Homo sapiens: one gene and its partners. The protein of the gene in region 4 interacts with the protein of the main gene of each other region in a pairwise test. Each region holds a gene or a part of one and is shown on either strand. Other genes may lie near its edges.

The links.
Region 1: the proteins of JPH3 (region 4) and ZNF20 interact in binary tests that used the Homo sapiens proteins (3 or more experiments, as listed by UniProt).
Region 2: the proteins of JPH3 (region 4) and ASB9 interact in binary tests that used the Homo sapiens proteins (3 or more experiments, as listed by UniProt).
Region 3: the proteins of JPH3 (region 4) and LZIC interact in binary tests that used the Homo sapiens proteins (3 or more experiments, as listed by UniProt).
Region 5: the proteins of JPH3 (region 4) and ANKRD13D interact in binary tests that used the Homo sapiens proteins (3 or more experiments, as listed by UniProt).
Region 6: the proteins of JPH3 (region 4) and PPP1R16A interact in binary tests that used the Homo sapiens proteins (3 or more experiments, as listed by UniProt).
Region 7: the proteins of JPH3 (region 4) and ZKSCAN3 interact in binary tests that used the Homo sapiens proteins (3 or more experiments, as listed by UniProt).

Annotation. Positions count from the first base shown.
Region 1 is NC_000019.10:12,134,101-12,137,350, forward strand, and holds part of ZNF20 (zinc finger protein 20), read right to left. Parts: intron 1,805-3,250; coding exon 1,669-1,804; intron 1,461-1,668; coding exon 1,400-1,460; intron 1-1,399. UniProt on the Homo sapiens protein: May be involved in transcriptional regulation.
Region 2 is NC_000023.11:15,253,084-15,256,583, forward strand, and holds part of ASB9 (ankyrin repeat and SOCS box protein 9), read right to left. Parts: intron 1,762-3,500; coding exon 1,654-1,761; intron 1-1,653. UniProt on the Homo sapiens protein: Substrate-recognition component of a cullin-5-RING E3 ubiquitin-protein ligase complex (ECS complex, also named CRL5 complex), which mediates the ubiquitination and subsequent proteasomal degradation of target proteins.
Region 3 is NC_000001.11:9,933,392-9,936,891, forward strand, and holds part of LZIC (protein LZIC), read right to left. Parts: intron 3,237-3,500; coding exon of another isoform or gene 3,229-3,236; coding exon 3,128-3,228; intron 2,237-3,127; coding exon 2,101-2,236; intron 1,470-2,100; coding exon 1,371-1,469; intron 1-1,370.
Region 4 is NC_000016.10:87,609,008-87,612,507, reverse strand, and holds part of JPH3 (junctophilin-3), read right to left. Parts: intron 1-3,500. UniProt on the Homo sapiens protein: Junctophilins contribute to the formation of junctional membrane complexes (JMCs) which link the plasma membrane with the endoplasmic or sarcoplasmic reticulum in excitable cells.
Region 5 is NC_000011.10:67,292,303-67,295,802, forward strand, and holds part of ANKRD13D (ankyrin repeat domain-containing protein 13D), read left to right. Parts: intron 1-3,500. UniProt on the Homo sapiens protein: Ubiquitin-binding protein that specifically recognizes and binds 'Lys-63'-linked ubiquitin. Does not bind 'Lys-48'-linked ubiquitin.
Region 6 is NC_000008.11:144,494,982-144,498,481, forward strand, and holds part of PPP1R16A (protein phosphatase 1 regulatory subunit 16A), read left to right. Parts: exon of another isoform or gene 1-1,479; 5' UTR 1,480-2,213; coding exon 2,214-2,472; intron 2,473-2,995; exon of another isoform or gene 2,996-3,014; coding exon of another isoform or gene 3,015-3,236; exon of another isoform or gene 3,237-3,500. UniProt on the Homo sapiens protein: Inhibits protein phosphatase 1 activity toward phosphorylase, myosin light chain and myosin substrates.
Region 7 is NC_000006.12:28,348,665-28,352,746, reverse strand, and holds the start of ZKSCAN3 (zinc finger protein with KRAB and SCAN domains 3), read right to left. Parts: upstream 2,801-4,082; 5' UTR 2,680-2,800; exon of another isoform or gene 2,359-2,679; intron 1-2,358. UniProt on the Homo sapiens protein: Transcriptional factor that binds to the consensus sequence 5'-[GT][AG][AGT]GGGG-3' and acts as a repressor of autophagy. Specifically represses expression of genes involved in autophagy and lysosome biogenesis/function such as MAP1LC3B, ULK1 or WIPI2.

The DNA of each region.
Region 1 (3,250 bases), on a different chromosome or scaffold from region 4:
ATCACCTGAGGTCAGGAGTTTGAGACCATCCTGGCCAACATGGTGAAACCCCGTCTCTACTAAAAATGCAAAAATTAGCTGGGCGTGGTGGCAGGTGCCTGTAATCCCAGCTACTCGGGAGCCTGAGTTGGGAGAATCGCCTGAACCCCAGAGGCAGAGGTTGCAGTGAGCTGAGATTGCGCCATTGTGCTCTAGCCTGGGTGACAAGGGCGAAACTCTGTCTCAAAAAAAAATAAAAAAATAAAAAAGTGATCTATATTGGCTGGGTATGGTGGGTCACGCCTGTAATCCCAGCACCATGGGAGGTTGAGGCGGGCAGATGGCTTGAGGCCAGGAGTTTGAGATCAGCCTGGCCAACATGGCGAAACCCTGTCTCTACTAAAAATACAAAAATTGGCTAGGTGTGACGGCGTGCGCTTGTAATCCCAACTACTTGGGATGCTAAGGCACGAGAATACCTCGAACCCAAGCAGTGGCAGTTGCAGTGAGCTAAAACCACACCACTCCACTCCCGCCTGGGTGACACAGCGAGACTCTTGTCTCAAAAAAGAAGAAAAAAACATGATTTATATCATTAACAACTATTGCACTTGCATTGTTAACACTGCCCGGCAAAGTGTCAGCTTTCTGCTCTGTCTGAATCATTTGAATATTAATGGACTATATGCTCTACAAGATGGTCTGGGTATATATATTTTTTTAAAATTAGTATTTCTATGGGGCTTTGTAATCCTATTTTCAAGTAAACTATTTTACAAATACTAAACATGTGCGTCTTTTTTTTTGAGTTGGGGTCTCAACTCACCCTGTTGTCCAAATTGGAGTGTAGTGGTACCAACATGGCTCACTGCAGCCTCAAACTCCTGGCCTCCAGCAATCCTTTGGTCTGAAAGCCCCAAAGGACTGGCATTTGGGGGTATGCGCAACAGTGCCCAGCCCAGCGTATGTTACATTTAAACATATGTTTTTAGGAAAACTTTCTATGAATACATAAATTTGATACTGGGCTTATTTCTTTTGCTTCTTTTTAACATTTTCTCACTTTTTTTTTTTTTTTGAGACGGAGTCTCGCTCTGTCACCCAGGCTGGAGTGCAGTGGTGCGATCTCGGCTCACTGCAAGCTCTGCCTCCCAGATTCAAGCAATTCTCCTGCCTCAGCCTCCCAAGTAGCTGGGACTACAGGCATGTGCCACCACGCCCAGCTAATTTTTTTGTATTTTTAGTAGAGACAGGGTTTCACCATATTGGCCGGGCTGGTCTCGAACTCCTGACCTTGGGATTCACCCACCTCGACCTCCCAAAGTGCTGGGATTACAGGCGTGAGCCACTGTACCCGGCCTATTTTCTCACATTTTAAGATTTTCTAGAGGCATTGCCTTGTCTTGCGAGAGAAAATTACCTTAGATTTCTCCTGGGATTTTTGTACTCATCTTCAATGTTCTGAACTTTCCATGTTTTTCCTAAAACACAGACCCGGAGAAAACACAGATCCAGAATTAGTATGAATTTATTTAAAAATCATTAGATTCTGTATTCATGGTACATGGTAGCCATGCCTGATTTATTCATCAAAGTATTTTTTGTCCATGTTCCAAATCAATGAACAGCATTGATGAGCTAGAAGCATTTGTTCTCTAATTCACTGGGAAGTAATATTGTCATTCTTACCTACAGAGGTCAGGTTCTTGAAGGTTTCCTGCATCACATCCCTGTAGAGATTCTTCTGGGAAGGATCCAGCAAAGCCCACTCCTCCTGGGTGAAGCTGACAGCCACATCCTCAAAGGCCACTGAATCCTGAAACATCTCACATATATAAAAGAGGACAGGTAAGACTAACAGCCCTGGAGGCCTATACTTTATTCCTAAGAAGTTCTCATGATACTGTGGACTCCAAACATTTATCCCATGACTTGGTCATCACACCTCTTACTTTCTGTCTATACTCACGTCCTCCCACAAACCAACCCTTTTTTTGTTAAGAGAGAGGGTCTTTGGCCAGTCGCGGTGGCTCACGCCTGTAATCCCAGCACTTTGGGAGGCTGAGGCAGGCAGATCACTTGAGGTCAGGAGTTTGAGACCAGCCTGGCCAACATGGAGAAACCCGTCCCTACTAAAAATATAAAAATCAGCCAGGCGTGGTGGTGGGTGCCTGTAGTCCCAGCTACTCGGGAGGCTGAGGTAGGAGAATTACTTGAACCCAGGAGGTAGAGGTTACAGTGGGCCGAGATCGCGTCACTGCACTCCGGCCTGGGCGACAAAGCAATACTCCATCTCAAAAAAATAATAATAAAATAAATAGGCCAGGCGCAGTGGCTCATGCCTATAATCCCAGCACTTTGGGAGGCCAAGGTGGGCGGATCACCTGAGGTCGGGAGTTCGAAACCAGCCTGACCAACATGGAGAAACCCTGTCTCTATTAAAAAAAAAAATACACAATTAGCTGGGCATGTTGGCACATGCCTGTAATCCCAGCTACTTGGGAGGCTGAGGCAGGAGAATCACTTGAACCCGGGAGGCAGAGATTGCGGTGAGCTGAGATTGCACCATTGCACTCCAGCCTGGGCAACAAGAGTGAAACTCCGTCTCGAAAAAATAAAATAAAATAAAATAAATAAAATCTATACTAATCAAGAGAAAATGGTATTAACAGATGGAAAGATAGACTAATGGAAAACAGCAGATTCTGAAAATAGTGAAACCACGACAAAGCAGGTATCACCAGCCAATTATGCAAGTGGTCCTCACTTACCAGAAGGAACAGGGACAGATGGTTACCTACAGGAGAACAAACAATCTTTGAAGCCCATCATCTCCATATGAATTAATTCTAGAGTTGCCTGTTACCGTGACTTCTTATGTTACCTTACCATGCATTTTCATTATGGGTTTCACTTTCTTATAACAGAAGAAACCCGTACTCAAGCCGTGTGTAGTGGCTCATGCCTGTAATCCCAGCACTTTGGGAGGCCAAGGCAGGCCAATCACTTCAGGTGAGGAGTTCAAGACCAGTCTGGCCAACATGGTGAAACTCCCTCTCTACTAAAAAACACAAAAATTAGCCGGGTGTGTGCGTGCCTGTAATCCCAGCTACTCGGGAGGCTGAGGCAGGAGAATCGCTTGAACTCGGGAAGCGGCGGTTGCAGTGAGCTGAGAGAGCGCCACTTCACTCCAGCCTGGGCGACAGAAAGAGACTGTCTCAGAAAAAAAAAAAAAAAAGAAGAAGAAGAAAGCTGCACTTGACCTCAACAG
Region 2 (3,500 bases), on a different chromosome or scaffold from region 4:
ATTAGCCCAGCATGGTAGCATGCGCCTGTAGTCCCAGCTACTCGGGAGGCTGAGGCAGGAGAATTACTTGAACCCGGGAGGCAGAGGTTGCAGTGAACCGAGATCACGCCACTGCACTCCAGCCTGGGCGACAGAGTGAGACTCTGTCTCAAAAAAAGAAAGAAAAAAGAAAAACGTATATAGTCAATGGACTGCTGAAATATATTTGCTAATAGATACAAAACTCCGCCGGGCACGGTGGCTCACACCTGTAATCCCAGCACTTTGGGAGACCAAGGTGGGCGGGTCACCTGAGGTCGGAAGTTCGAGACCAACCTGGGCAACATGATAACATGATGAAACCCCATCTCTACTAAAAATACAAAAATGAGCCAAGTGTGGTGGTGCGTGCCTATAATCCCAGCTACTCAGGAGGCTGAGGCAGGAGTATCACTCGAACCCAGGAGGCGGAGGTTGCAGGGAGCTGAGTTCGTGCCACTGTACTCCAGCCTGGGCGACAGAGCGAGACTCCATCTCAAAAATTAAAAAAATAAAAACATAAAAACTGGTTAATGTCCTATAGGGCCATAAAAGTATAATCTTTGAGGCTATCTTTTCTAATGTTGGAAATCAGACAGAAATTTCGAAGTTAATGTCTAACTTCACAGTGTTTGGGCTATAATTAAATAGTGAATAGAAAAGCCAAGTGCAGACACATTCTTGTATATCATTAAATGATTATCTGGTGAATCTTTTAAGCAATGATATTGTGAAGACAACGAATTCCTTCTCAAACTCTACTTCCAAGCAGGGCCAGGACCAGAGTGAGACATAAAAGTTGCCCAGGGTAAAAAATTTAAGGACATATTCATTTTTGGAGTCACACAAATAGTGCAGGACCCTGAGAGCGAGCACTTCTTTCAAGTTTGTACCCTAGGTGTCTCTTGCTTCACCTTGACACGTTCCCTGTTTCCAAGTTTTGAATGTTTTCTTAACCCAAATATAAATCTGGCAGTGCACTCACCTCTGGCTCTTTACTGATCTCAGGACAAAGCCCATTCTTTTTTTGGCATGGACAAGGTTGCTTATGTTCTGAACCCTCTCACCTACTCTACTGTCCTGCCGTAAGGAATGACTTCAAGATATAAAAATTGCTCACTATCATTTCTGGGACTTTGCATTTGCTGTTGCCAGAAGATAGCAAGCCCATAATTTTCCCCAACCCACCATTCAGTTGCCTAACACAAAACAGGTCCATTTTTGCTGCTCTTGCAATCCCTGCTACCATGTGAACAAGTCCAGGTTGCCAGCTAAAGGATGAATGACCACATAGATTTTCTGTCTCCTCAGACATCCTAGCCATCCCAGGCAAATGTGTGCTTTCCACAATATTTCATTACCTTCCGGCCATAACAATGAAGACAGAAGTCTAATAACTATTTATTAGTAGTGTATGATAAAGAAAATGATATAGACTGTAAGCGTGACTAAAAATTTAGTATTTCATCCATCCATCACTAAAGCAAACAAGCCTGATGAACATAATTTTCTTGAAAAACAACTGTCTTCATATTTCAAATCAGTCTAATCAAAAGTGCTGGAAGTTATTCAGAAGGGATATACATAGTCATTTTTCATTCTTGGTTTCTAAGATGTTGTTTCAGCTGCCCTTACCTGAGCTCCATGCTTTAATAAAATCTTCACACAAGAGAGATGACCTCCAAGACAGGCTTCATGGAGTGGGGAAACATGATCTGCCGTGATGATGTTCACAGCCCACCCCTGAAGGAGGGGAAACAGTCAGAGTAAGGGGTGCAAAGCAACAGTGCCCTGGGGCTGCTTTTCAGCCACCATTCCAGTACTATGACAAAGCTGACCTGGCTCAAAGTCAGATGTTACACTAAGGTGTTTATATTGACTTTAAAAAAAAAAAAATGCCACACTACTGGTGGGAGTGTGGTATGGTATAACCACTCAGGAAAACAGTTTGACTGTATCTATTAGAGCTGACAATGCATATGCCTATGACTCAGCAATTTGACTCTTAGGTATATATACATCTAGATAAATATACAAGAATATTCACAACAGCATTGGTCATAATAGTCAAAAACTGCAAACAAACCAAATGTCCATCAACAATGGACTGAATTAATTAACTTTGGTATAATCTTTCAGCAGAAAGATTACACCCAACAAATCATAATGGCAAGCACTACAAGGGTGATGCTTGCAAAAATAATGTTGAGCAAAAGAAGCAAAATCCAAAAGCATACACACTGAATGATTACATCAATTTAAAGTTCAAAATTAGGCAAAACTACCCCATATTGTTTCAGAAGACATAATATATAGAGTAAAACCATAAAGAAAACAAGGAAATCGGGATAATGGTTACTCCTGTGGAAGAGGGACAGGATTGTGTTCTAGAAAGCACAATAAGGGGAGGGATGGGTGAGTCTTTGGAGGAGCCAGCATTGTGCTATTTTTCCATTTCCTGACCTGGGGAGGCAGTCACATGGCAATATTCTCATCATCATCACTTTTTATTCAACTGCACACGTGTTTAAGTTCTTTCATGCTTATGAAATTTCTCAATTTTTTTAAAGTCAGCGTGGCCCAAATTGCTAAGTTTTAACAAGCAATTATTAAGTTTTAACATATTCACAAGTGGCTCTACCTTGTGAGACAATTAAAAGGAAATTTTCAAACTGCGAGGGAAAAGAAATAGACTGCTGCATGTACCTTTTAGGAAGCCTAAATGTACTTTCTTATTTTAGGAAATTGAAATGTACCTATTAACTAATATAATTGCTCTTTAAACATAAGTATTTAGTAACACACAGGATTTAATAATATTTGTAATAAAAATATCAGTTTCACCCAATTTTTTTTCTCAAAAAAACCCTCCTTTTCCTGACATTTAATTGTTTTTCTTAGATTTCCTAGCTCTATCATAGTTTTGACAAGGGGGTCAACAAACAGTAGCCTACAGAGTCAAATCTAGCCTACACCTGCTTCTGTAGCTAGGAATGGTTTCTACATTTTTAATGGTTTAAAAGAAATCAAAGGAATATTTTGTGACACGTGAAAATTTTATGAAATTCAAATTTCAGCATCCATAAGCAAAGTTTTATCAGAACACAGCCATGCCCATTCATTTACATATTGTCTACAACTGCTTTTCTGCTAAACAGCAGAGTTAGGTACTTCCAACAGAGACTGCATGGTTCGCAAGGCCTAAGATTCTTTTTTTTTTTTTTTTTTTTTTTTGAGACGATGTCTTGCTCTGTCGCCGAGGCTGGAGTGCAGTGGCGCGATCTCGGGTCACTGCAAGCTCCACCTCCTGGGTTCACGCCACTCTCCTGCCTCAGCCTCCCAGCCTAAAATATTTACTATCTGGTCCTTTACTGAAAAAAATTTGCCAACTCTTGGCCGGGTGCAGTGGCTCACGCCTGTAATCCCAGCACTTTGGGAGGCCGAGGCAGGCGGATCACGAGGTCAGGAGATCGAGACCATCC
Region 3 (3,500 bases), on a different chromosome or scaffold from region 4:
AAATATGATAGAAATGTTAAATGCAGTTCTAGTAAATCATCTAGTAAAATATCACCTCTTCCACCAGAAACACTAATAGCATGTACCACACATTGGGAATATTCAAAGTACTTTTACACATATTACTTCATTTAATCCTCATAAGAACCATAAGAGGTAAGGACTATCTTTGTCATGTTTTTACAGACAGAGAAACCTAGGCACAAAGGGGATGAATAAAATAAGTTGTCCAGGCCAGGTACAGTGGCTCATGCCTGTAATCCCACCACTTTGGAAGGCTGAGGTGGGTGGATTGCTTGAGCTCAGGAGTTCAAGACTATCCTGGCCAACATGGTGAAACCCTGTCTCTATGAAAAATACAAAAATTAGTGGGGTGTGGTGGTGTTGTGCCTGTGGGCCCAGATACTTGAGGGGCTGAGATGGGAGACGCTTGAGCCCAGGAGACAGAGGCTACAGTGAGCCGAGATTGCATTACTACACTGAGCCTGGGTGACAAAGTAAGACCCTGCCTCAAAAACAACAACAACAACAAAAAAACAAAAAACAAACAAAAGGCTAGGCGCAGTGGCTCCCATCTATAATCCCAACACTTTGGGAGGCTGAGGCGGGCAGATCACTTGAGGTTAGGAGTTCAAGACCAGCCTTGACAACATGGTAAACCCCATTTCTACTAAAAATACAAAAATTAGCCAGGCGTGGTGGCATGTGCCTGCTGTAGTCCCAGCTACTCAGGAGGCTGAGGCAAGAGAATCACTTGAACCCAGAGGCAGAGGTTGTACTGAACCGAGATTGCGCCACTGCCCTCCAGCCTGGGCAACAGAACAAGACCCCATCTCAAAAAAAAAAAAAAACATAAAAAACTTGTCACATACCTCAGTAGTGAAGCAGGAATTCAAATCCAGCCAGTCTGACCAAAGTCCATGCTCTGAATCACTATGCTACTGAATTGCCCATACTTACAAATAATTTGGTAACTCTTAATTACATCCAAGCCTATAAACAGACTTCTGGAAGTATCAGGTTTACAAAGATACTTGAAATTCTTAGATGAGATAGGCTACACATGCATACAAGCAATGCTGCTAATTAATTCTCAATGTGATTTTAAGTTAGAGCTCCAGAAGTAAATGGTAAAACATTAAAGGTGGAGTCCAGGTAGAAGTGGTCAGTGGCAATTTAAACTGCCGTATATTGTTTAAAGCTCTACATTCATTATCAACTATAATTGCTCAAAGTACTAATTTTGTCAGAAAATTGTTAGTTGTGGCTCTAAAATCACCTGGCAAATTTTTAAGCCATAGGATATCATAATGAATTGGCCTAGGAAATGAAAAACACACAGCAACCAAATCAATTTAAAGAAATTTTACCTCTGCTAACCTTGTCCGAAGCTGACCTGGTTGTTTCTTTGCAAACAATCTGATGACCTCTGGGGTTTTAAAGGCCTGGCTGATAGCTGCCTGAATAGCCTAGAAACACAAGAAGGCAAAAACTAACCAAAATAGTCCAACAAATCAGATATTGCAATAACTGATTGACGGATCCTTAATTTTTATCAAGGTTTACTGGTTCCTGTCATGGAAGCAATTACACAACTAAATGAAGATCTGGAAGGATATGTTGTGTATGCATAAACAGACACTCATCTAGAAGTTACACCTTGGGAGGCCAAGGCAGGAGGATTGCTTGAGCCCATGAGTTTGAGACCAGCCTTGGAAATGTAGCAAGACCCCATCTCTAAAAAAAAAAAACTAAAGGCCAGGCACAGTGGCTCACGCTTGTAATCCCAGCACTTTGGGAGGCCGAGGCAGACAGATACCTGAGGTTGGGAGTTCAAGACCAGCCTGACCAACATGGAGAAACCCCGTCTCTACTAAAAATACAAAATTAGCTGGGTATGGTGGCACATGCCTGTAATCCCAGCTCCTCAGGAGGCTGAGTAAGGAGAATCGCTTGAACCTGGGAGGCGGAGGTTGCAGTGAGCCAAGACTGCCCCACTGCACTCCAGCCTGGGCGACAGAGTAAGAATGCATCTCAAACAAAAACAAGAACAAACAAAAAAACAAAGTCTGTCCTCTGTCGCCTATATGTTATACTTACCAGCTGCATTCCACTTAGTTCATCTACCAAAGTCATATTTCCAGACATAATTTTCTTTAGTGAATCATTAAATTCACTTAGTTGCTCCAGAGTTTCCTTTTTGGTTTCTTCATATTCATCTGTATCAAGTTCCTCTCTGAAATAGGTGAACATCATGATATGGAAAAATGAAGAGTTCCAAGTGAAAAATGCAATCTTAATACTTGTACATTAGAGAAAGACTGAAGGGAAATATCAAAATGCTGATGGTGAATGTGTTCACATAGTAGTAGTGAGGGCATTTTCCTGCAATATAGTTACTTTGGTAAACATTTTTCTTTTACCAAAATGAGGATACTTAAGAAACCACATAATAAAGCAGGGTGCCGTAGCTCACACCTGTAATCCCAGCACTTTGGAAGGCTGAGATGGGCAGATCACCTGAGGTCAGGAGTTCGAGGCCAGCCTAGCCAACATGGTAAAACCCCGTCTCTACTAAAAATACAAAATTAGCCGGGCATGGTGGTGCATGCCTGTAATCCCAGCTACTCGGGAGGCTGAGGCAGGAGAATCGCTTGAACTTGGGAAGCAGAAGTTGCAGTGGGCTGAGATCTCGCCACTGCACTCCAGCCTGGGCAATACAGCAAGACTCTGTCTCAAAAAAAAAAAAAAAAGCTGCAATGAACTGTTGTGGTCCTTTGTGCAGGTAAGGCTGAAACTACATGCCAGAAGTTCAAGTAGTACCTTCTTAGCCTGACAGCAGGTAGGACTGATTTAAATACTAAAGACAAAGTAGGTGTTATTTCTACTTCAAGGAAGGTAAGTATTTTGCTCAAGTTCACATGCACTTAGTAGTTAACTGAATGACTTTCATTTCCCAGCCTTTATGACTCCAAAGCCTGCAATAAGTTTACTTCTCTAATAGACAAAGCACTGCAAAGAACACTACAGGGGAATGCAGAATCATCACACATGGGCCTGCATCCACGGAGCTAGCTGCAGAAAAAACGCCAGTTTCCAGCATAACAACATACAATTAAACTCTTACCTGCATTCCTCCAGATCTTGTAATTGTTGCATGAGTCTATCCAACTGTTCTTCTAAATTCTGCTTTAATTTGCTTGTCTCTGTCTTTCCTCTGGAAGCCATTTTAATCTCTATGTGAAACAATAAACCCACATACCATATGAAATTAACATACCAGTGCAATTTTTTTAAGTTTTATTTTTTGTAGAGACAGAGTCTCACTATGTTGCCCAGGCTGGTCTCGGAACATCTGGCCTAAAGTGACCCTCCCATCTTGGACTACCAAAGAGGTGGGATTATAGGCATAAGCCACCACACCCAGTCCCTAGTGCAATTAAAAATATGCAGCTGCGGCCAGGCGCCGGTGGCTCAGGCCTGTAATCCCAGCACTTTGG
Region 4 (3,500 bases):
GGTCCTCAACCTGCGCTGAACGTTAGAATCACCTGGAATGTTTAAAAAATAATCTCAGGCCAGGTGCAGTTGCTCACACCTGTAATCCTGTAAAAAAGTTGCTCACACCTGTAAAAGCACTTCAGGAGGCCAAGGTGGGCGGATCGCTTGAGCTCAGGAGTTTGAGACCAGTCTGGGAAACACGACAAAACCCCATCTCTACAACAAATAACAAAACTTAGCTGGGCATGGGGGTGCATGCCTGCAGTCCCAGCTACTCAGGAGGCTGAGGTGGGAAGATGGCTTGAGGCCAGGAGGCAGAGGTTGCAGTGAGCCACGATCACACACTATTGCACGCCAGGACGACAGACGGAGCCAGCCCCCGTCTGAAAAAAATTAAAATAAAAAGAATCCCAATGCCCAGGCTGTACCCAGAGGACCTCAATCAGCACCTGTGGGTGGGGCCCGGGCATCTGCATTTTCTAAAGCAACCTAGATGAAGCTCATGCACAGCTAGGGTTAAAGTGAGTGCACCAAAGCAGGATCTCCTGCACTGCAGCCACCTGAGCATCTCCAAACACACATCCTGACCCTGGAGGTCAGGCAGGCCTGACACGCTGCATTTCTAACCGTCTCCCAGGGACATTCTTAGTGACTCGAATGTGTAGCCAGGCTTAGGAGGCACAAGCCCAGGACTGTGGTTCTTAATGTGAGGTCCCCAGATCAGCAGCCTCAGCATCGCCTGAAATTTGTAAGAAATATAAATTCTTGGGTGGCATCCCAGGCCCAGAGACTCAGGGGTGGGGCTGGAAATCTGTGTCTTGACACACCTTCCAGGTGGTTCTTGTAACACTCAGGCTTGGGAAGCACTGGCATAGAGCAGCAGACAGAGGCGGGCCCATGTCCTGCCCAACTCAGACTCCACCAGCAGCAGAGAGAGCGACTCTCGGTGTTTTTGGAAAGCATTTGCACCAGCGAGCCTTCCCTGGGTCCAGAACAATACCCGTGACATTCATAGGTAGGAGGGAGATGGCACATGTTGAGAAGGAAAAAAATGTCATGACTAAATCATAGAGATGGGGAAGCTGAGGCTGAGGGAGACATGGCCTCGAACAAATCTGCAGCCTCAGGCTTGGGATAACAACTCTCACCCTACTGCCCTTCCAGACTCAACTCAGGCACTGCCTACCCCCAGAAGCCTCTGCCGCTCCTTCAGGGACACACACACCTGCCCTGCCCCTCCTCAGGTCCCTGCCCTGTGGTGCTCCCATTCAGGACCCCCACTGTGGCATGAGAAACCCTGAATTATTCCATATATCTCGGTTTTGCATCCCTGTTCAGACTCCTTATTCTTCCTGGTAGAACATAGGACATCCTATTTCTTGCATTTTCATTTTTATGTGTTTGTTTCTTTTTTTCCAATCTTCCACGTTACCACAAACTCTGTACTGCGTACATACTCAATGCTCAGCAAATACTTAAGGCTGATTCACTGAGGTTGGACCTGAGCTTTTCTGTCTTTGTGCCTTGAACACGGTCTGAACTTGGCAAATGCTTCTCCAATGACTGAACGAATCAAGCCAAGGAAAAGGGAGCAGTAAAAAGATAGTGAGGAATTAAGCAGACTGGAGGGTACTCATCTTTCCATGGGCCTTTCTTTGCACTTTGCAATGAATGCTACTCATTAAATCGTGGTCCAAAAATGCCTCCCAGTCATGACTGCTGGTATCGCTCCATTATTCACTGCATTCAACACCATCATCTTTCTCATATGAAACACTGGCAGTCTCTTAAGGAGCAATGACAAAGCCAACCACAAAACAAAACTGATCAAGGAATTAGAACAGGCATGTTTTAATGCTAATTGTAAAGGGAGACTGACCTGTGGACATGAGGGTCTCACGGAAAAACTTTCCTTTAACTACGTCCAATTCTAAGGTCTTGCAATGAAACAGGCATACGAAATAATGACGGTAAACAAAATTACCAAATACTACCGCATTTACTTGCACAGGTCATTCATTCCACAAATATTTATTGACCACCACGTGCCAGCACCATTTTAGTCACTGGGCACATGGCAGTGACCAGCATGGACACAAACCGCTTCCCATATGGAACTTACACTCCAGACCAGTGCTGCCTGCCCAATAAAGCTTTCTGCACTGATGGAATGTTCTGGATTTACATTGTCCAATATGGTGGCGACTAGTCCCAGGTGGCTGTTGAGCCCGTGAAATGTGGCTGGTACTGGTTCGTTGCCTGTTAGGAACCCAGCCACACAGCAGGAGGTGAGTGGCGAGTGAGTAAGCAAGCAAGTGAAGCTTCGTCTGTATTTACAGCCGCTCTCCAACGCTTGCATTACTGCCTGAGCTCTGCCTCCTGTGAGATCAGCAGCAGCATTAGATTCTCATAGGAATGCAGAGCCTACTGGAAACTGCTCATGCCAGGGACCTAGTTTGCACACTCCTTATGATAATCTAATGTCCGATGATCTGTCACTATCTCCCATCACCCCCAGATGAGACCGTCTAGTTGTAGGAAAACAAACTCAGGGCTCCCACTGATTCTACATGATGGTGAGTTGTATTATTACTTCACTATATATTACAATGTAATAATAATAGAAATAAAGCACACAATAAATAGAATGCGCCTGAATCATCCCAAAACCATCCCTCAACCCTGGGCGGTAGAAAAATTGTCTTCCATGAAACAGGTCCCTGGTGCCAAAAAGGTTGGGGACCATTGGTCTAGAGGACTCACCCATTGAGGCAGATGTAAAGAGAATGGTGGTGAAACAGTTTCACTGACTGGTACAGACAAATCATTCCTCTGCCTGCCTTCGGCTGTGCACCTATGACCCCTGTTATGCTCCAAGAGAAGTGAACACACATATCCTATGGCAGGAATACACCTTAGACTTCAGAGCAACTTCTATACATCTTACTAAAGTCTCACCCTAGGCCGGGCACAGTGGCTCACACCTGTAATCCCAACACTTTGGGAGGCCGAGGCACGCAGATCGCCTGAGTTCAGTTCAAGACCAGCCTGGCCAACATGGCAAAACACTGTCTCTACTAAAACCCAAAACATTAGCCAGGTGTGGTGGTGTATGCCTGTAATCCCAGCTACTCGGGAGGCTGAGGCATGAGAATGACTTGAGCCCAGGAGGCAGAGGTTGCAATGAGCCAAGATCACTCCACTGCACTCCACCTTGGGCTACAGGGTGAGACTCCATCTCAAAACAGATAAATAAATAAATAAAAACAAAAAAATAAAGTCTCACCCCCAAACCCACCTCCACAAGCTGGGAGCTGCTCTCCCAGTTGACCAGCAGAGGATGTTACCTCAGAAGACACTCACTTCTTCAGGAAGGACTGACAGGGTAGGGGTGAAAACATAGGCAGGCATGCCAAGTGGCAGCCCTTCCTGGAGCATGGAATCCATGCACCGACTGAGTAGGACCAGGCACACTTCTTCTTTTTCTTTTGAGATGGGGTCTGGCTCTGTCAGCAGGC
Region 5 (3,500 bases), on a different chromosome or scaffold from region 4:
GCTCAGGGGCAGGTGGGTTGCTGCAGCCCGTGTCTCACTCAGACTGCCGGGGTGGTTGGGCTCCTGTGGCCACCTTTGTGGGGAGGGGTCAGGTCAAGATGTCCCCAGTTTCTTGACTTCTGACCTCATATGTTTTCCCATTAAGACAAAGATTTAGGCTGTGGTTCACGGCAGCTCTTTGCACCAATGTTGGCTTGTCATTGGTGCGGCTGTGTTGGGGGCAGAATCCTTTGTGGGTAGCCTAGGAACCTGACCCTTCCAGCAAGAGTTTCTCTGACAACACATGCCCCCTCTTGCCTTAACAGTCAGTGGAAACACTTAAAAAAAAAAACAAAAAACCTTTATTGAGATATAATCTCATATACCATATAAGATCACCCATTTAAAGCATACAGTTCAATGACTTTTAGTATATTTATTCAGAGATTTGTACATCACCACAGTCAATTTTAGAACATTTTTATCACCTCAGGAAGAAACCCCCCACCCTTTAGCTAACTCTTCGCCAAACTTCTTATCCCCTCTCCCAGTCCTAAGCAACCACTAATCTACTTTCTGTGTCTGTAGAATTCCCTGCTCTGAGTTCTCATATGAATGGAATTTTATAATATGTTGCCTTTTGTGTCTGGCTTCTTTCACTTAGTATAATATATTCAAGGTTCATCCAAGTTGTAGCACGTAACTATTTCTTTCCTTTTTGTGGCCATTGTATGAATATACCATATCTTGTTTATTCATTAACCCATCGATAGACATTTGGGTTATTTGCATTATTTGGCTTATGAATAATGCCACTCTAAGTATTCATGTGCAAGTTTTTGTGTAGACGTATGTTTTAATTTCTCTTTCATATGTTTTCATTTCTCTTGGGTATATACCTAAGAGTGGAATTGCTAGGTTACTGATAACTCATTGTTTAATTGACTGTTTACCAAACGAGCTGTACTGGTTTACATTCCCACCAGCAGCATGTGAGGGTTCCAGTTTCTCCACATCCTCATCAACACGTCATTATTCACTCATTTGTTTTTGGAATCTAGCCAGCCTAGTGGGTGAGAAGTGATAGCTCACTGTGATTTTGATTTGCCTTTCTTTGATGACTAATGATGTTGAGCATCTTTTCATGTGCTTATTGGTCAATTGTATATCTTCTTTGCAGAAATGTCTATTCAGATCCTTTACTCATTTTTTATTTAACTTAATTAACTTATTTATTTTGAGATGGGGTCTGGCCTTTCACCCAGGATGGAGTGCAGTGACATGATCATGGCTCATTGCACCCTCCACCTCCCAGGCTCAAGTGATCTAAGTAGCTGGGACTACAGGTGCATGCTGCCATGCCCAGCTAATTTTTAAATTATTTGTAATTATTTTATTATATCATTTAATTGTTTTGTTTAGTTATTTGTAGAGATAGAGTCTACAGACTGGTCTTAAACTCTTAGGCTGAAGCGACCTGCCTACCTGGGCCTCCCACAGTGCTGGGATTACAGGCATGAGCCACCACACCTATCCCTTCACCCATTTAAAAAATTGGGTCATCTTTTGATTATTGAGTCATAGGAGTTTTATAATTTTAGCTGTTACACTTAGGTCTTTGAGCCATTTTAAGTTAATTTTTGTGTATAGTGGAAGGTTCTTTTGCATGTGACTATCCAGTTGTCCTAGCCCCCTTTGTTGAAAAGACTATGTTTTTCCCACTGAATGGTCTTGTCACCCTTGTCGAAAATCAGTTGACCATAGATAAATTGGTTACTTTCTGACTCCCACATTAGTTCCATTGGTCTACATGTCTGTCTTTATGCCAATATTATACTGTCTTAATCACTGTTGCTTTGCAATAAGTTTTGAAATTGGAAAGTGTGAGTCTTCCTACTTTGTTTTTCTTTTTCAGGGTTATTTCAGTATTTTGGGACCCTCGCATTTTATATGAATTCTATTTTCTTTTTTCTCACAACCCAGTGTAGGCAGAATATATGAATTCTAGATTCAGCTTGTCAATTTCTACAGTCAGGTGGGATTCTGATAGGAATTGCACTGAATCTATAAAGCAGTTTGGGGAATAGTACCATGTTAACAATGTTAAGTCTTCTAATCCGTGAACATGGGATGTTTTTCCATTTATTTGGATCTTCTTTAATTTATTTCAACATTATTTTATAGTTTTCAGAGTGTAAGCTTTGCACTTTTGTTACATTTATTCCTAAGTGTTTTATTCTGTTTTTTGTTTTGTTTTGTTTTTTTGTTTTTTTTTTTGAGATGGAGTCTCACTCTATTGCCCAGGCTGGAGTGCAGTGGCACAATCTAGGCTCACTGCAACCTCCACCTCCTGGGTTCAAGCAGTTCTCCTGCCTCAGCCTCCCAAGTAGCTGGGATTACAGGTGCCCACCACCACTCCTTGCTAATTTTTGCATTTTTAGAGAGACAGGATTTCACCATGTCGGACCAGGCTGGTCTCCAACTCCTGACCTTGCTGGGATTACAGGTGTGAGCCACCGTGCCTGGCCACTAAGGGTTTTATTCTTTTTGATACAATTATGAATCAAATGTTTTTCTTAATTTTATTTTTTGATTGTGTATTGCAAATGTATAAAATTACAATTGATTTCTGTATGTTGACCATGTATCCTGCAACATTGCTAAACTCATTCATTCAAGTAGATTTTTAGTGGATTCCTTTCCTCAGTATTTTTTTTAACATATAAGATTATGTTATCTGTAAATAGATTTAGTTGTATTTCTTCCTTTCCAATTTAGGTGCCTTTTGTTTCTTTTTCTTGCTTAATTGCTCTGACTAGAACTTCCAGTAGAATATTGATTAAAGGTTGTTAGAGGCTGGATGCGGTGGCTCACGCCTGTAATCCCAGCACTTTGGGAGGCCGAGGTGGGTGGATCACGAGGTCAGGAGATCGAGACCATCCTGGCTAACATGGTGAAACCCCATCTGTACTAAAAATACAAACAATTAGCCAGGCTTGGTGGCGGGCGCCTGTAATCCCAGCTACTCAGGAGGCTGAGGCAGGAGAATGGTGTGAACCCGGGAGGCAGAGCTTGCAGTGAGCCAAAATCACGCCACTTCACTCCAGCCTGGGCGACAGACCAAGACTCCATCTCAAAAAAAAAGGGGGGTGGTTAGAGCAGGCTGGGCATAGTGGTTCACGCCTGTAATCCCAGAACTTTGGGAGGCTGAGGCAGCCAGATCACTTGAGGTCAGGAGTTTGAGACTAAGCTGGCCAACATGGTGAAACATCATCTCTACTAAAAATACAAAAACAAAAAAAAAATTAGCCAGGCATGGTGGTGGGCACCTGTAGTCCCAGCTGCTTGGGAGACTGAGGCACAAGAATTGCTTGAACACAGGAGGCAGAGGTTGCAGTGAGTCCAGATTGTGCCACTGCACTCCAGCCTGGGTGACAGAGCAAGACTCCATCTAAAACAGTAAATAAATAAATAAAAAAGAAAAGAAAAGTGGTTAGAGCAGACATCCTTGTATTCTTGTC
Region 6 (3,500 bases), on a different chromosome or scaffold from region 4:
CTGGCCAGTGTGTGCTTGCCCTGGCCTCTGCGGTCTACAGAGCTGGCCAGGCTTAGGAGCAGGCTGCTCGGAGGGAGAGTTACTGCCTGGAAAAGCTCTTTACTTGGCAGGCAGAAAGCCAGGTCAGGGCCACTGGCCTTATTGGCCGTGTCCTCAGGAAGCCTCTGAGGCTAGGCCTACAGGGGGGGACTATGTCTAGAGTAGGCTGAACCTGTAAAGTGGGGCTCCCAGATAAATTGGGGGCCCCTGAGCAGGAAGGACCTGACTGGCTTAATTTGACCTGGCCCAGGACAGTTCCCTTTCTGAAAGAAGGGGGCATTCTATGAAACACCTGGGTAGAAGTCCAGCAGTGAAGAGTTGGGTCAGTGTGTAGATGGCCATGAGGCCTGGCTGGGTGGAGAATAGGACTCCTGGCAGGCATCTTCTGCAGAGCACGGAGTGCCTTCTTTCTTTTCTTTCTTCCTTTCTTTCTTTCTCGGAGTCTCGCTCTGTCACCCAGGCTGGAGTGCAGTGGCGTGATCTTGGCTCATTGCAAGCTCTGCCTCCCTGGTTCACGCCATTCTCCTGCCTCAGCCTCCCGAGTAGCTGGGACTACAGGCACGTGCCACCACGCCCAGCTATTTTTTTTGTATTTTTAGCAGAGATGGGGTTTCACCCTGTTAGCTAGGATGGTCTCGATCTCCTGACCTCGTGATCCACCCGCCTTGGCCTCCCAAAGTGCTGGGATTACAGGCCTGAGCCACCGCGCCTGGCCAAGCACAGAGTGCCTTCTGAGGTGAGGCCTGTGGCCAGCCCAGCAACCACACTTAGTGTGTCGGGCAGGACTAGGGCCATAGCAGGTACATAGGCAGGGTTGTGCCCCAGCCGAAGCTGTCTGCCTGCCTGTCTGTCCCCATAGGCCTCAAGCCAGGCACCAGGTGGGGGCTTTTATTGCAGCCTAGGATGGCAGAGGCATTGTGGGAGCCCATCAAGGAAGAGGTCTAGAGACTGGGCAGTGAGAGGCTGGGGTATCAGTCAGGACAGGAGGAGGCGGGGCCTACCCTTGGAAGGCAGGAGAGGTGGAGGCCCAGGAGGCGGGGCCTGCCCTTGGAAGGCAGTAGCCTGCAAAGCCCTCAAGGCTGTTCCACGAGACCTCACCCTGCCCAGCCTTAGGGCAGCGCCTGGCCCTGGAGGAGCAGCCTAGCAGGGAACGCCTCGCTGGGGTGGGCGGCCCTTTCTGGAAAGGGTGGGTGGGAGGAGCCTGACATGCCTTTCCCCCGCCCCTCTCTGAACCTGGGGCAGAATGGGGGCAGAGTAGCTCCCCGTACCCCCAGGACTGTTGACCTGCAGTGCTCTCTGTGGACAAAGGGTGGGCCTCACACAGGGCAGGACCTGAGACAGCTGGAAGCCTGGTCTCACCTGAGGCCCAGGGCAGGGGCTCCCCCGGGCCACCCTGCCTCAAGCCGGCCTTGATATGCTTCCTTGTTCCCCACTTCTCAGGTGTGAGCAGCTGCTGGAAGAGGAGGTGCTCCTGAAGACACTGCGGCCGGCCCGCCTGTGCCCTTGGTGCCCTGGCTGCCTAGAGAGCCTCACCCCTGGGCCCTGGGGCCAGGACTCCAGGACTCTGACTACCTGCCCTCCCCCAGCCTCAGCGGCTGCACCTCCTCGTTAGTACTGATGCACTGACCTCGGCACACAGCTGGGAGGGGTTGGGGGCTGGGTCATGGCTGCTCCCAGGCCCCACCCAGGCTCCTGAGCCTAGAAGGTGAAAAGAGGACTCTCAGGGGCTCACAGGGGCTCTCACTGCTGGTTGGCCCTGCCCTCCCTTCCCCCTCAGCAGGGTGCCCGGAAGCTGGAACCTTGTTATCTGGGTAATTAGTTTCAGACCCTGCACTGAGGCCGGCCAGGTCTCGGGGCTGCCTCCCATAGGTTGTGCACCCTGACCCCGAGAGGGAGGCGAGGCGCTGCTTGTCGACAGCTAGAGGCTGGCCTGGGGAGCAGGTTTGGGGTGCCCTCCCACACTGCCCTCCCTGCCCCGGCCCATGCCCCCCAGGGCTGCCTGGGCCTGGTTATTGTGTGGGGCCTCCTGACCCAGCCAAGGGCACGAAGCTCTGGGAAGGGGATGCCCCCGAGGGTGCCAGTCCAGCTAGCTGCCCCACCCCTCAGGCCCAGCCTGGCCCCCAAGCTCCCCACTCTGGTGCCCCGAGCAGCCCTGTGGGCAAGCAGCCGCCGCCATGGCCGAGCACCTGGAGCTGCTGGCAGAGATGCCCATGGTGGGCAGGATGAGCACACAGGAGCGGCTGAAGCATGCCCAGAAGCGGCGCGCCCAGCAGGTGAAGATGTGGGCCCAGGCTGAGAAGGAGGCCCAGGGCAAGAAGGGTCCTGGGGAGCGTCCCCGGAAGGAGGCAGCCAGCCAAGGGCTCCTGAAGCAGGTCCTCTTCCCTCCCAGTGTTGTCCTTCTGGAGGCCGCTGCCCGAAATGACCTGGAAGAAGGTGAGTGTGGCTGAGCCCAGAGCAGCTCCCAGCAGACGGCCCACTCCCTGCTACCTGGGTGCCGTCTCATGCCAAGGCTGGGGGCTGGGCCTGTCCACAGCTCCTGGGCTCCAGCCCCCAGATCTTGCCTGGTCTCTTCAGGCTGGGTGGCCCAGGGTGCCCCCATCAGGCAAGCCCCAAGCAGTGGGCAGCCCTGAGGTGAGCCTGTGCGGGACAGCCGTCCTTCAGGCGGGGGCTGCATGCAGAGGGCTCCTGCTGTGAGGTGAGCTGAGGCCATGAGTGGACCCCCAGGAGCCTGCAGAAAAACCTAGTGCGGGGCCCCACGGGAGCAGGGGTGGCCGGTAGTCATTGCTGCTTCTTGTTAGGCTGCTCAGGAGAGCCCTGGTCTCCACCTCCGTGAAATAGGGTGGGACCAGCCACCTCTGTGGGTGAGAGAGCCAGGCCCTGGGCAGGCACAGAGCTATGCAGGTGGCCCCCTCTCAGTGCCTGCCCTAGGCTCTGCTTGTGACTCTCTTCTCCTCACCTGTGCCCCACGCTTGCAGCCCCAGCTGTGTGGGTTCCACTTCTGGTGCTCTGGAGTCTTGGGGGAAGAGGCACTGTGGTGGCCCTTGAGACTCCTTCCTGCCTCCCTCCGGAGCAGAGAGTAAAGAGGAGCCGGCAGTGTCTGGCCTGCATCTTTCCATGTGGACAGGAGCCCTCCCGGGAGGCCTGGAGGCAGAGGGAAGAGGCGGAGGGTGCCATGGTCCACAGGGAGCTGTGGGAAGGTGGGAGCCCTCCTGCTGCACCCCAGGCACCGTCAGGGAGAACCCTGGTGACCTGGGCGAGAGCTGGGCCCGAGTTGGGATCTTTGATGGGGAGGGGAGTGAGAGCAGGGATGTGCTCTGGTGGTGGGGAGCCTCAGGTCAGGTCCCAGAGGACCCAGGAGAGCTCATGAACACAGGGCTGGCAGGTTGTCAGGGAAGAGCCGAAGGAGCTGTGGTAGCCTCCAGGCAGGGAGCTCTTCCTGGGCTGGAGGGAGGTGTGGGATT
Region 7 (4,082 bases), on a different chromosome or scaffold from region 4:
TCTGGGGTACTCCTACATGAGCTAATAATACCAAAATAAGTGAGCCTAAATCTAATCTAGTCTTTAGATCCAAATACCAGTGTACAGGTGAAATATAGGAGCAAATTACATTAAAGGCTTTCAAACTTTGTTACATATTAGAATCACTGGGGAGCTTTTAAAACATCCTAATGCCTTGGGTACAATCAAGATCAATCAGCCTGGGTGCAGTGGCTCACACCTGTAATCCCAGCACTTTGGGAGGCTGAGGCAGATTTCCTGGGGTCAGGAGTTCAAGAACAGCCTGGCCCATATGACGAAACCCTGTCTCTACTGAAAATACAAAAATTAGCTGGGTGTGGTGGTACACACCTGTAATCCCAGCTACTTGGGAGGCTGTTGCATGAGAATCACTTGAGCCTGGGAGATGGAGATTGCAATGAAAAAAAAATCAATTAAATCACTCTCTGGGGGTGGGACTTTTAATACATCAATAACTTTTAAAACTTTCTAGGTCATTCTGATGTGCAGCTGAGTTTGAGATCTAATAAGTTAAAGATACTAAAAAGAAGCAATCGACCAAATCCAGAATGTGAGGCATTTTATAAAACAGAAGGTTCAAGTTCCTCAACAAATAAATGGCATTTTTACCAAAAGGAGTGGGAGGGAATGGGAACTGTCATAGATTAGAAGACTGAACAGACTTATCAAATAAATGCAAATGGTGAACCATATTCGGACCCCACTGAAAACAACAACTGTAAAAAGACTGTAAAAAAAAAAAACTCTAGAAATATTTGAGACAATTATTTGAAAATCAAGATAATGATATCAAGGAATTATTGTCAATTTTTTTGCGTGTGATCATGATACTATGATTATATTAAGATAAAAGTCCCTGTATATAAGAAATTGACACTGAAGTACTTGTACTTGTGAGTGAACTAAAATGTTTCCATCTGCAATTTGCTATAAAATGAAAGAGAAGAGAGGGACGAAATGAGGAAAAAAAAGAGATAAAGAGGGGGAGAGGGAGGGAAGGAAAGGAAGACAAAGAAAGGAGGGAGAGGGAAAGAAAGGAGAGAGGGAAAGAGGGAGGAAGTAAAAGGGAAGGAGGGAGACAAAAGGGAAGGAGGAGGAGAAGGGAAGGAAAGAGAGTGGAAAGGAGGGAAAAGAAGAATGAAAGAAAATGACCAAAAGATGATGGCTGAAGCTGAGTCATGGTTATATTGGTGTTCATTGTAACATTCTCTCTACAATTAAATGTGTTTAAATTTCTCTCCAAAATTTTAGAAAATTAAACAATGTCCTAACTTCTTTCCTTCCTGAATAATACAGCCAAAAAGCATTAAGGTAGGGTCAAGGAAGGCGAGAGAGAGCCACAGCCCAACCCAGAGTGAATCTGGAGCCCAAGTGGAATGAGGAGGGTGTCCACGGTGGGGAAGGGAGGAAGTCTATGGCAGGAAAACAACACTGATACATTTATATCATTTATTCCACAAACTCCATTTAGGTTTCACTACCTGGCCCCTACTTGGATCTGAGCCAAACTGATCACAGTGGGAAGGCACAAGATTGGGAAATTGGTTGCCAACACAAAGTATTTATCAAATCAGTAAATATACTGAAGATAAGGAAAGGAAAGTTTCTCATTAACAGAAAAGAGTTACAAGTCTATGAAAGAGCTAACCCTGTAAAAGTTGGGTTGAAATGAAGGGTGTTAGTATGAAGCCAGTTTCAGGCTAGGGCGTTCCTGGAAGCTCGAAAACTGGTGGATCTCCAGCACTAAGCAGGACATCAGATTTTTGCAAAAACCAGGGGTCCTAGTCCTTTTTCACTATTAAAAACTTCTATTGTTCCTCCTAATCTCCAGCCAAGGAAAAGGTACCCCCGAGTCTTAAAGCCTTTGAGAGTTTGAGTATCACAACGTCCAACACAAACCAGTTTTGGTCTTTGCTTTGGGATAGGCTCTTTTTCAGAGTATCTTATTTTTCCCTCCTAAAATATAGAAATCATCCATTACAAAGTGAATTGATGAATGACAGTAAAATTGAAAGCAACCGTACAAAAGCCAGTCACTAATGTGTCATCATAGTTATAAATAATAATAGTACCACTAATAAAAGCAAATCTTTAAATCATGCTTACTCTGCACCTTACCCATACGAATGCATTCAATCCTCACAACAACCCAGTGAGTTAGGGAATATTATCCCCATTTTACAAAATAGTAAAATGAGGCAGAGAGAGAGCTTAGGAACTAGTGAAAAGTCACACAGCCAGTAAGTGGCAGAGGCAGGATTTGAACCAGGTAATCTGACTCCAACGTTCTGGCTCTTGGCCAGTACCACAGAATAATTTAAAGACCTTGAAACTGACCTTGTTACCAGGCAGTGCAAAAATGTAACGGCTCCCATTCTCGAGGCTTGTCTATGTGACCCATGCATCCCGTCTCCAAATACCCTCAAGAACCGACCCGGACACTCGGTAACGGCCCTAAACAAGGGACACCCATATTGGGCTCTACGCAGGAACGCCGAGGACCACTTCATTCCGCCGCAGAGCGCCCTTCCCTCCCCCACGGCTTCTCGCAGGGGTCTCCCTCCTTGGGAGCCGAGGCTGCAGGAACTGGGGAGGGAAGGGCCTCTCTCCACAAACACACACACACACACACACACACACATACTCCTGCAAACGCACCTCTACCCGGGGACAAAAGAACTGCAGGACCGACAGGAGGAGAGCCGCGGGATGAGATTTAACCCCACAGTGGAAGGCCGACGCCGATTCACCCCATACTCACAAAGTGCTTGAAACTAGCAAACCACCCGCAGGGCGGGGCACAGAAGCCACTTCCGGGCCTCTCTAGCCACCTCCCTGACAGACTCTGTCGTTTGCTAGCTCGGCACCTTGTGTCCCCTCCCCTTTTGCTATTAAAGAGGCTTTTAAATTTTTATTTTTCCAGCTATAACTAAGGGAGAAAGGCAAGGTGCAGAATTATTTTCATAATTTGCTATATTTGCGAATAGAAGAGAGTAAAAAGAATCTAAATTATGTGTGCGTGTGTGGCACAAAGAAGCCCTGGAAAAATCGGAAAATTAATAATGGTGGTTACCTACGAGAGGTGAACGGTCAGAAACTGAGTGAAAACGGGGACAAGAGTGAGAAGGAAAGTGTTAGGGTGCATGTTTTAAATGTACTTTTAATTTTAGAGTTGATTGCATTGCCTAATTAGAATATGAATTCTAAATACATAAATTTTAAGGAACATGCTGCGTGGTTTACATAAAAAATCCAAGATAATCTAACACTCAAATTATGATGATTAATAAGAGAGTTTAGCAAGTTGGCTGGACTTTTTAAAATTCATGTTCACAATCACATTCTCCATCAAAATTATAAAAATAGAATTTTTAAAAGACATCTATCACAGAAGCAAATACTTACAAAAGATACCTGAATGGAAACATTAGTAACTTTATTCATTAGGGATAAGTAGTTGAAATATATACCTATATATATGAGACATATATATACACCTATATATATGAGACATATATATACACCTATATATATGAGACATATATATACACCTATATATATGAGACATATATATACACCTATATATGAGACATATATATACACCTATGTATATGAGACATGTATATACACCTATGTATATGAGACATGTATATACACCTATGTATATGAGACATGTATATACACCTATGTATATGAGACATGTATATACACCTATGTATATGAGACATGTATATACACCTATGTATATGAGACATGTATATACACCTATGTATATGAGACATGTATATACACCTATGTATAAGACATGTATATACACCTATGTATATAAGACATGTGTATACACCTGTATATGAGACATGTATATACACCTATATATATGAGAACTCAATATCATAAAGATATCATTCCTTCCTAAATTGATACACAAATCCAGTACAAAGCAAATCAAGATTCCAATTGTGCTCAGTGGAACTTGACTAGTTGATTTTAAATGTATATGGAATAATGAAAGAGTCACGAATCCGAGACATTTTTAAAACAAATGAAGGAGCTGCAGAAAC